4 separate regions of the Homo sapiens genome follow, and all the other regions are linked to region 1. The links come from fine-mapping of genetic effects on gene expression. A gene starts in region 1. Each other region holds a variant in brackets. All regions are shown on one strand. Distances are from middle to middle.

Region 1 (2,500 bases):
GGAAAAACAAGTGACATATCTGCATGGAGCCTAAATTTCGCTTGGTGATTTTCAGGGTAGAAGCATTACATATTAAAAACACTGCTATTTTAGGGGAATACAGAATTTAAAAATCCACACAGATTCGCAACATAAAACATGCCGCCCAAAGACACGTCCGCGGTGTCCCGACAGTTCCGGCTCCGCCCGCGGGCCACGAGGCGGGGAGCGACGGTCACTCCCCTCGGTTACCCGGAGTACTTGGGCGGGAACGGGTAGCTCGCGGGAGAGACGGGCTCCTGGGCGAGGGCTGCGTCTTAGTCGCCCTGCTTCTTAGCTCTCGAGGTCCCGCGTGTTACGTGTTAGCACCGCCCGGGGGCGTCAGCATGACCCGAGGCTGCAGGAACCGTGAACTCTCTGCCCCGCGGGCCCAGGTGACCGCGGGCGGCGCTCTCCCGCGCGCGGGGGGCGGGGCTCCCCCCGGCTGTTCACTCAGCTACCACAGCGACGTAAAATGGTGTCCGCTAGGCGTCCCAGGACGGCTTCCTGAGGGACTGGAGGGCCCCGACAGCCGGAAAGCCTGCCCCGCCCCTTGGCCGGCACAGGTACGACGGCGGGGAGCTCAGAAGTTTCGAACTCCAAGGGCCGAAGCACAGCCAAACACCCCACGGAACTTAACAAATGTTTGTGGGGAGAACGCCGAAAACGCGGGGAGGCGGGGCTGGCGCACAGTCACCCTCTCGCGACATCTAAGTGACGTCGCACAGCAAGCACGTGTTCTAGTCTTTCACCTTCAGTCAGCCTCCTCCGTTATACAGGCCTACCCCTTTAAGCGAGTGATGGACAGTTATTTCAGCCTATCAACTTCCTTGCCGACATCCAATCAGATTTAAACTTCTTTTAGCCGCCGGAGGAGTTGGAAAAAGGGGGTCGAAAGAGGGAGCTTACCGTCTCTCGCGATATCGCTGTGAGCCTGCCTCTCTGGAAAAAACGCCGAAACTGATGGCCCGACCTCCCAAATAGTGGTTTAAAGGACGGGTTTATAAGCCAATGAAAGGGATAAGGAGGTGGGTTGCTGCTGTCACTGAGCAAGAAGTACCGTTACAGGGCAGACTTTTTGTCCAATCAACACCTCAACACTTTGGGTCACGTGACCGCAGAGTGCGAGGGGCGGAGCTACAGTCTGGCGCGAGGAACCGTTAAGATAGACAACAAATGTAACCAATGAGGTACTCCGACTAGGGGGTTGGGAACCCAATAACAGTGGTTGGGCGGGCGCCTTCCTGGAGCGCGGGGAGATGTAAAGATAGACAAATAATTTTCCCAATGAGACTGTAGAAGAGAGAGCAATTGGCCAATGAGGACTGCGGGGCGGGACCCTGTGCCGCGGCGGAGTCCAAGATGGCGGCGTGCGGTTCCGCTGTGTGAAACGAGCGCGGGGCGGCGGGTTACTCAGCTCCGCGGAGACGACCTCCGACGACCCGCAACAATGAAGGGAAAAGAGCGCTCGCCAGTGAAGGCCAAACGCTCCCGTGGTGGTGAGGACTCGACTTCCCGCGGTGAGCGGAGCAAGAAGTTAGGGGGCTCTGGTGGCAGCAATGGGAGCAGCAGCGGAAAGACCGATAGCGGCGGTGGGTCGCGGCGGAGTCTCCACCTGGACAAGTCCAGCAGTCGAGGTGGCAGCCGCGAGTATGATACCGGTGGGGGCAGCTCCAGTAGCCGCTTGCATAGTTATAGCTCCCCGAGCACCAAAAATTCTTCGGGCGGGGGCGAATCGCGCAGCAGCTCCCGGGGTGGAGGCGGGGAGTCACGTTCCTCTGGGGCCGCCTCCTCAGCTCCCGGCGGCGGGGACGGCGCGGAATACAAGACTCTGAAGATAAGCGAGTTGGGGTCCCAGCTTAGTGACGAAGCGGTGGAGGACGGCCTGTTTCATGAGTTCAAACGCTTCGGTGATGTAAGTGTGAAAATCAGTCATCTGTCGGGTTCTGGCAGCGGGGATGAGCGGGTAGCCTTTGTGAACTTCCGGCGGCCAGAGGACGCGCGGGCGGCCAAGCATGCCAGAGGCCGCCTGGTGCTCTATGACCGGCCTCTGAAGATAGAAGCTGTGTATGTGAGCCGGCGCCGCAGCCGCTCCCCTTTAGACAAAGATACTTATCCTCCATCAGCCAGTGTGGTCGGGGCCTCTGTAGGTGGTCACCGGCACCCCCCTGGAGGTGGTGGAGGCCAGAGATCACTTTCCCCTGGTGGCGCTGCTTTGGGATACAGAGACTACCGGCTGCAGCAGTTGGCTCTTGGCCGCCTGCCCCCTCCACCTCCGCCACCATTGCCTCGAGACCTGGAGAGAGAAAGAGACTACCCGTTCTATGAGAGAGTGCGCCCTGCATACAGTCTTGAGCCAAGGGTGGGAGCTGGAGCAGGTGCTGCTCCTTTCAGAGAAGTGGATGAGATTTCACCCGAGGATGATCAGCGAGCTAACCGGACGCTCTTCTTGGGCAACCTAGACATCACTGTAACGGAGAGT
Region 2 (2,745 bases), 64 kb before region 1:
AAGCAATCTACAGATTCAGTGCAATCCTTATCAAAATGCCATTGTCATTTTTCACAGAATTAGAAAAAACAAGCCTAAAATTCATATGAGACCTAAAAAGAGCCCAAATAGCCAAAGCAATCCTAAGCAAAAATAGCAAAGCTGGAGCCATTACATTATCTGACCTCAAATTATACTACTGGGCTATAGCAAACAAAACAGCATGGCATGATCATAAAAATAGACACAAAGATCAATAGAACAGAATTTAAAAACCCAGAAATAAAGCCACATACCTACAGCCAACTGATCTTTGAAAATGTCAACAAAAATATACACGAGGGAAAGGATACCCTTTTCAATAAATGGTGCTGGGGAAATTGGATTGCTATATGCAGAAGAATAAAACTGGACCCCTGTCCCTCACCATATACAAAAATCAATTCAAGATGGATAAATACTTAAATGTAAGGCCTGAAACTACAAAAATACTAGAAGAAAACCTAGGGCAAACTCTTCTGGACATTGGTCTAGGCGAAGAATTCATGACTAAGACCTCAAAAGCACAAGCAATAAAAACAAAAATAGACAACTAGAACTTAACTGAAATGTTTCTGCGCAGCAAAAGAAATAATCAACAGAGTGAACAGACAACATGCAGAATGGAAGAAAATATTTGCAAACTATGCATCTAGTAGGATACTGATGTCCAGAATTTACAAGGAACTCAAACAACAACAAAAGCAAAAAACAAATAACCCCATTAAAAAGTGGGCAAAGGAAATGAATAGACATTTTCAAAAGAAGACATACAAATGGCCAAGAAGCATAGGAAAAAAATGGTCAACATCACTAATCATCAGGTTTTAATGCAAATCAAAACCACAATGAAGTATCATCTTATACTAATCAGAATAGTTATTATTAAAAAGTCAAAAAAATAGATGTTGGTGAGGATGCAGAGAACAAGGAATGCTTATACACTATTGGTGGGAATGCAAATTAGTACAACCTCTATGGAAAACAGTATGGCTATTTCTCAAAGAACTAAAAATAGAACTACCATTTGATCCAGCACTTCTACTACTGGTTATCTACCCAAAGGAGAAGAAATCATTATATAAAAAAGATACTTGCATTTGTATGTTTATCACAATAGCAAAAATAGGGAATCAACCTGAGTGTCCATCAATGGAGGACTGGATAAAGAAAATGTGATATGTATATACCACGGAATACTATTCAGCCACTTAAAAAAGAATGAAATCAGCTGGATGTCCCTGTAATCCCAGCACTTTGGGAGGCCGAGGCGGGTGGATCATGAGGTCAGGAGATCGAGACCATTCTGGCTAACACAGTGAAACCCCGTCTCTACTAAAAATACAAAAAATTAGCCAGGCATGGTGGCACACGCCTCTAGTCCCAACTACTCAGGAGGCTGACACAGGAGAATCACTTGGACCCGGGAGGTGGAGGTTGCAGTGAGCTGAGATCACGCCACTGCACTCCAGCCTGGGTGAAAAGAGACTCCGCCT[C/CAA]AAAAAAAAAAAAAAAAAAGAAGAATGAAATCATGTATTTTTCAACAAAATGGATGGTACTAGAGACCATTATCTTAAGTGAAAAAAACTCAGAAACAAATTCAAATACCATATGTTCTCTTATAAGTGAGAGCTAAATAATGTGTACAGCTGGACACAGAGTGTGGAATGATAGACACTGAAGACTCTGAAGGGTGGGAGTGTGGGAGTGGAGTGAGGGATGAGAAATTGCTTAATGGGTACAATGTACATTATTCAGGTGAAGGTTACACTAAAAGCCCAGACTTCACCACTATATAATATATCCATGTAAAAAAAGCTGCACTTATATCCTTTCAATTTATACAAAAAAAAAAAAAAAAAAAAAAAGGACCTTAGTGTTCTGTGACCTTTATACGTGAAGAATGGGTTAATAGAAATAGCTGGGTTTTCATGGTGTTCAGGCAAACAGGACACCAGGACCAGAGAGAGAAAGAGAATTTCAGTGTCTGCAGCTTTTTCAGAAGGAGAGGGAGCCCTGCCTAGTCCTCATGGGTACCTGGACTTCTTGGCAGGACTTTTTCTGGAGTGAAGACATAGGTACCTAGCTCCCATGGCATAATATATTGACCATCAAAAGCATAAACCAACCTCCTGTGCCCCACATTCTGCCTCAGGACCATCCAGTCCAGCCTGTTTGGGTTCTATTTCTCATGACAATTCTGATTTACCATCAATCTCTTAGGAGGCTCATTGGCATGTGTTAGTCCTATAGGGCATCTAAATGCAAGAGCATCATCTTCAGGCAGAGAGAGCAGGACATTTTGTATTCAACACATCTTAGAACAGCCCCAGGAGCTTAGTATCTCATGCAGGAATAGTGTTATCATGTCACCAAGCCAAAAACAAACTAAAGACTGACAAACATGGACCTCCAAGGGGAAGACTGCAAAAGTGAGTTGATAACAGACAGTTGCCCCCAGAAGTTCTCAACAGTGCTGAGAGCCGGGTCATATGTATATACCAATACCACCCACACATTTTTCATTATCAGAGACTCAGATTTTACCAAATTGCAAAGGACATATAAACTGTCTTCTGAAGCCTCTGCTTTCAGCATTACCTTCCACCCCACATCCCGCTGAAATCTAAATTTAGCCATCTGTTTTCACCATTCCAATAATCACAGGGACTTAGGCTTACTTGATAGGGGTGATAATGTAAGTGAAGTCAAGAAAGAACACACATCATT
Region 3 (2,745 bases), 68 kb before region 1:
AAAACAGTTGCATCTGCCTGAAGATCAAACCAAAGCTAAGGAGTTGGATGAGGCTATACTAATAATCTCAGGGTGGACTTAGAGGCAGCCTGATGACCCTGTCCACATAGGCACTGCGAGTCTTACAAGTTGTCCCCATATGTGTCTACTGAACTTCTTTAGGGAGATAAGCTGCTGACTGGAGGGTGTGAGCACAAACCAGGAGGCTGAGCGAATGACCTTCAAGAAAGGAACAAACAGGTGCAAGGGAGCTGGTTGTGAGGAAGATAAATAGAAGCAGTATGTGCAAGGGAAACAAGGCTACAAAGGTGGGAAGGGATTGCCTCCAAAGTGGGCCTGGCTCTTCTCACCCAACCACACTGCATCAGAGGTGAGCAGCCTATCAGGGCCTGAGGTCTGAACACAGGATGCCTGGCCTACCCTCAGTTGCATTGCATTTTTCAGCCCCTGCAGACTGGCTCTGCGGTGGCCTCAATTCAGAGGTACACATTCCAGGACATTGGAGGAGTCTATTGATGTGGAAGATCAGCTCTTCAGTAGATTTAGACCCTGGGGGGCTGAATGGAACCCTCTTGAAAGATCTTTTCAGGAAGGCTTGGAAGCCAATGGAAGGATCCTGAGGATGACAGTTCTGGAGAGGGTAGAAATAGAAAACAAACAAACAAGGAATGACTCTCCAGAGTCAAAGGCATGCAATTCTCCTTGTGTGAACTGGCAAGGGCTAGATGCCACTCAGACCCTGGAGAAACTGAGCAAAGAGAAAAGAGAGGTTAAACCTTCAGAGGTGGGAAGGTTGTGAGAGTTCAGGGCATATTCCTGGAGGTGAGTATAGCTGAGCACTGATGGTGTGGTTGGGTGAAAGCTGGATAACAGAAGGTCAAGAAGAAAAGAGCACTAAAGATCATCTACTCCAAATTCCCTCTTTATACAGGGGAGAGATCTGAAGCTTAGGGTGGGGAAGGGATAGCCCACAGTTACATTGCTAGTTAGTAGTAGAGCTAAAACTGGAACCCAAGTCTCTGGACTCTTGAGAGTAGTTTTGAATCCTGGCAGCTCATTAGAAAAATCTAGTCTAGAAAATTTCTCTTAAAGAGCAAAAAGCTAAGTATGGGAAGCAAGACTCATGTGAACCCAGATCTGTTTGGACTGGTT[T/C]ATTCCTATCCCAAATACCTGCACTTGTGTAGCCTCTGATTACAGGGGCTTAAGCTTGTGAGTTCAGTGCCAGCAGACAACTTTCTCATTCTTTAGAAGGCCATTCCAACAAAAAGTGGGCTAGCTGCCTCTGGAAACATTTAGGTCCAGTTTTGCTAGGAAGCAAACAATCATGTGGGGGCTGTTTCTATTGCAGGGTGGGGAAGAAGGGGGTTGAGGTGTGAGGTTGGGGAGGAGACTGTCCCCATCGCATGCTTTGGGAATCTTCCCTCTTGCTGCCAACTGTACAGTGACTCTGAAAAGCATCTGAAAGAGGAGGAGGAGGAGGCTCCGTTCACACATGAAAGGCTAAGACTCACTTAGGTTATAACACACACTCACCCATAATTACCCCATATTCCTCTAAATTGTCCACACCATGATGGACAGATCCCCCCTTCCCGCCACAATTTTCCCTAAAGTTGTGGACCTCTGATGACCTCGAAACTGATCTAACATAGTAATTTTGTTCTGGGGTACCTGGCCCACTCCATCTTCTTCTGTGATCTGTCTTGGATTGTAAGCCCTACTGAAGGGACCAGCTGGACTGCCTTATGTGTTCTATGTGACCATCCAGCTACAGCTGGTTGGACCAGAATCAGATCCTGTCTCAATGTTGAACAATCTATTGGCTGGTCAGCAGCCAATCAGATTCACCCTCTTGAGAATTTCAAGTATGTGTTGCACAGCCAGAATGCAATCAGAGCTCAAAGGTTACTGAGGGTTGGGAACTTTACCTACAATCAATGCTGTAAACAGGCTGAAGTCATTAAGAGGCAGAGATGCTTCTTGAACAAGCTGCAGAGAGAAAAATGGCCCAAATGTATGAACAGATGAGACCATAGAGACACCATAGAGGCCCCAGAGAAAGAGAATCAAAGAGAGGGACTATAAGTCATTTCAAAGAGGGCTTGGATGGCTATGAAACCAGAGCTCTTAAGGTTATAATAAGATTGAAATTTTCCATAGGATGCTGTAGTCACACAATAGTGCTGTTTTCTTGAGGAGACAGAAGACTTAGCCACTCATAATCATGACATCTCATTCATAATAATCCATGATTGGAGGTGTGGGAAAGTGAATAGGTATCTTACAGTTAGGGTGAGAGAGGAAAAGAGAAAAAGAGGGGTTGGGGAGAGAGAGACAGAGAGAGGATACCTTGAGCCCTAACAGTTCAGATTTCCCAGATGCAATTTTCAAAATGATACTGGCTGCACTTTATTTCCATGAGCTGTCTTAGAACCTTACAATGACTACCTTGTTCATTTTGGTTTGCTTTTCTGTCCTTTGCATGCAGTAAATTCATCCTAAAATTCATTTATCTAAATGTAATCTGATTTCCTTGTATTATAAAAATGCTCACTCCCAAGTCTCCAAGGGATAGTCCTGGAGTTGGTTGTGGTGTCTATGTAAATCTCCGCAGTTCCCCTGACAATTGGCCTTGGCAGAATGAAAGACCATTAAGAAGCTGAGCAAGGAGAGGAAGGAGGAAAGCTTCACCTCTGTAACTGCATATAATGTTTCCTGGAGAAAAATGGACCCAGGAGCTGAAAG
Region 4 (2,720 bases), 32 kb before region 1:
CTGTGGCACTCCAAAGTAAGATCAACACTAAAATCAAGACTCACCTCTTACACCATGTACAAAATAGGCTTTTCTGTCTCCATTTCCCTTTTCTCATGTATAGCCCTTCCTCCTTTCTTTCTCTGCGCTCCTCCTCCTCACATGCCTGGGGTTCCCTGCTCCATTGTGGCCAGACCTTTGCAGGCAGTGATATTCCTTGCCTGCTGACCTCTCGGTTAGCTCCTCCTCCTAGACCTTGGCTTCCTGGCCCCCTTCCACAAAAGTGGAGCACAGGAGAATTGCACAGGGAGCATTGCAGTGTGGAGTGTAAGTTCTGGGCCTCTGCCTTTTTTCTCCCCTGGTGACTTGGGCTGGACCTAAGGTTGCCTGAACCTGCCTCATCTGAGCCCAGAGCTGGCCCTAGGTTACCAGGCCTCTCTTCAGAGGGTCCTCTAGACCTTGAGAACACCCTTCCCCTTGGCCAAGAGCTTCCCAGTTCTTTGAGCCTCCAAGTCAAATACTCCTAGCATGTCTTCCCTGCAGGACACCATGCTCCTAAGGTGAGGAGATGGGTGCCTACTAATGCTACCCCATGGTAGCATTGGGATGTTGTCCAAGCTCCCCGTGTCTTTTCCATCTGTTCCGTTCTCAGGTGCTTCTTCCCAATCCTCTATCGCAAAATGTCCTCTGTGCTTTTAGGCATGTGACAGAGATTGCTGATTGATCACCAAATCCATCTCACCTTCTCTGGCATATGGCTAGGCTTCATTTCCCAGGCTGCCTTGCAGGTTAGCTGTGTTCTTGGGAATGAGTTTTGGTCAGTGGAGTGTGAGGTGATGTGTGCCACTTTCAGACCTGACTGTAAAAACATCCCAGTGTGGTCTCAATGTTCTTTCTTTCTGCATCCACTGGACACCAAATCCCAGGGCAGCCTTGGTTGGAGACGGCAAAACCATGGCCACCCAGGTCCCTGAATAACTGAGTAGAGCACAAGCCCATGCTACCAACCCGTACCTGCCCTGGAGTGAAAGGAGCCAGGAGACAAGGCGCACTCACATGTATACATATATGTGCACAGGCTGTCATCACATCTGGTTGGGGGTGCTCCTCTGGGCTCCTGGCCTGGTACTATTTCTAGTTAACAGGCAGGGCATGTCTGCCTCAAGGATCTGTGGATGAGGGGCCTTCTGCTTCCCCAGACACCTTCCTGTCCATGTCGCCTTTCAAGTTAGTCTGCAAATTGCTTTGGACAATCTTGCTCAGATCCTGAGGCCAGAAAGAACATTTCTTTCCCTGCAGGCCGATGACTTGACTCTTGCCACTTGGCAAGCTTCTTCCTCTCGCTGTGGAGAATGGGGCCAAGTGATGGTCAGAGGAGGGACCAAGGACTCCAGCTGAGACCAGATCTGATTCTAAGTGGTCAAAGGAGCCCCT[G/A]ACCTTGGCCATCCCTGCATACCTCTTGCAGATAGAAGCCCCTGTGTCAGCAAATTTGGATTCAAGTTTCAGAGACTAGATTTGATGCACAGAAAGACGCTGCTTGATTTACCAAAGAGGCACAGGACAGAAGGCCTTCCTCGGACTGTCTCTGGCAATTTCCCGCTGTCCCACCCTAGGGATGAAAGGGGCGGTAGTCTCCTCAGACTGTGTCCATGGGTCTGGGGGTCCTTCCGCTTCCACTACTCTGTGATGCCTGCTGGGTGGGGTCTTCGGTGAGGCACATGCTCCAGCGAGTCTAAACTGCGTTAGAAGTAGTTTCTTAAACTACCTTAGTCAAGTGCTCATCAAGCCACAAATGAACAGCTGCCTCCTGCCTTGAGCCCGATGCCTGGATTATTCATCCTTTTTGGCTTTCAGATCCTCTTTTTGGATCCAGGCAGATACTGCTCCTTCCACAGCCACCTTAGTTTGTAATGTCATCTTCCCAGTCACCCCCTCCCCACTCCTGGCCCTTTTCTCTTTTTGGCTGGGCACATCTACCTCTTCTCCAGGCCCCTCCTTTCATCCTGGATAGAGTCTCTGGGGCATGGCTCCAGGCTTCTCTTGCTTCTAATCAGTTCCTTTCCCCCTTATCCCAGCAGCCTCACATTCATTTTGTTGGCTCCTCTCCATTTTACTGAGCTTTCCTTAAAATATCTCCTTCCTTTTTATCTATCTCTGTTCCATCCCCTTGGAAGTGTGGTCTTTAGTAGGCCCTTGTTTCTCATGCCTCCTGGGGCTCTTTCCTTCCTCATTATGACCATCCACCTTGTCCAGGCACCACCCTGCAGCTACTAGAATACATATCACTGATGGAGTGTGGAATATGTGCCAGGCACTATGTAAATGCTTTGCCTGCATTTTTTCACTTCATTTCCTCATAATAACCCCTTGACAGCAAATGCTATCACCCCCTTTTAGAGTGAGGAAACTGAGGGAGAACCACAGAGGTTGAGTAATTTGCCCAGAGCCACAGTCCGTGGGAGGAGGAATTCCAATCCAGCTCTCTCATGCTCCCTGTTCACCCTGCCTCACACACACTCCAAGTCAGCAGATATTTATGAAAAGTCTACTGCATACAAAGTGCTGTGGGTAATAGTTATGTGGGGAGGAAACAGAAAGAAAATAAGATTCTGTCTATGCCCTCAAAGAGCATCGCCTAGGGTAGGAGACATGCATACGTATGTATAACACTACATGGAAAGCCTAAGGGTTAAACATAAGCACAGTTTCTGAGCGCTTAGGAGAGGGAGTGGCCTAGCATG

The links. PIP is the estimated chance that this variant, and not a neighbour inherited with it, causes the effect.
Region 2: its variant is the best candidate, but not a certain one, in a credible set for the expression of RBM15-AS1 in whole blood (INTERVAL, PIP 0.62).
Region 3: its variant is the best candidate, but not a certain one, in a credible set for the expression of RBM15-AS1 in whole blood (INTERVAL, PIP 0.76).
Region 4: its variant is the best candidate, but not a certain one, in a credible set for the expression of RBM15-AS1 in lung (TOPMed, PIP 0.87).

What each region holds. Positions count from the first base shown.
Region 1 is chr1:110,338,070-110,340,569 of GRCh38, forward strand. RBM15-AS1 (RBM15 antisense RNA 1) reads right to left here and starts at 1,102. Exons shown (of 4, transcript NR_036595.1): 1 at 928-1,102. It overlaps RBM15 (RNA binding motif protein 15), which reads left to right and starts at 1,308. Exons shown (of 3, transcript NM_022768.5): 1 at 1,308-2,500. The coding sequence starts at 1,337. It overlaps LOC124904276, which reads left to right. Exons shown (of 1, transcript XM_047437983.1): 1 at 1-934. The coding sequence starts at 366. The coding sequence ends at 872. RefSeq lists enhancers at 1-176, 1,317-1,616, 1,647-1,766, 1,737-2,475, 1,847-2,296 and a silencer at 277-546.
Region 2 is chr1:110,274,440-110,277,184 of GRCh38, forward strand. It overlaps a transcript of KCNC4 not described here. Among named protein-coding and RNA genes, the nearest start is that of RBM15-AS1, 63 kb to the right of the region's middle. The variant C/CAA (reference allele first, on the strand shown) is at 1,515.
Region 3 is chr1:110,270,401-110,273,145 of GRCh38, forward strand. It overlaps a transcript of KCNC4 not described here and the pseudogene LOC124900436. Among named protein-coding and RNA genes, the nearest start is that of KCNC4, 61 kb to the left of the region's middle. The variant T/C (reference allele first, on the strand shown) is at 1,153.
Region 4 is chr1:110,305,980-110,308,699 of GRCh38, forward strand. All of the region lies in intron 2 of RBM15-AS1 (RBM15 antisense RNA 1), which reads right to left. Among named protein-coding and RNA genes, the nearest start is that of RBM15-AS1, 32 kb to the right of the region's middle. The variant G/A (reference allele first, on the strand shown) is at 1,414.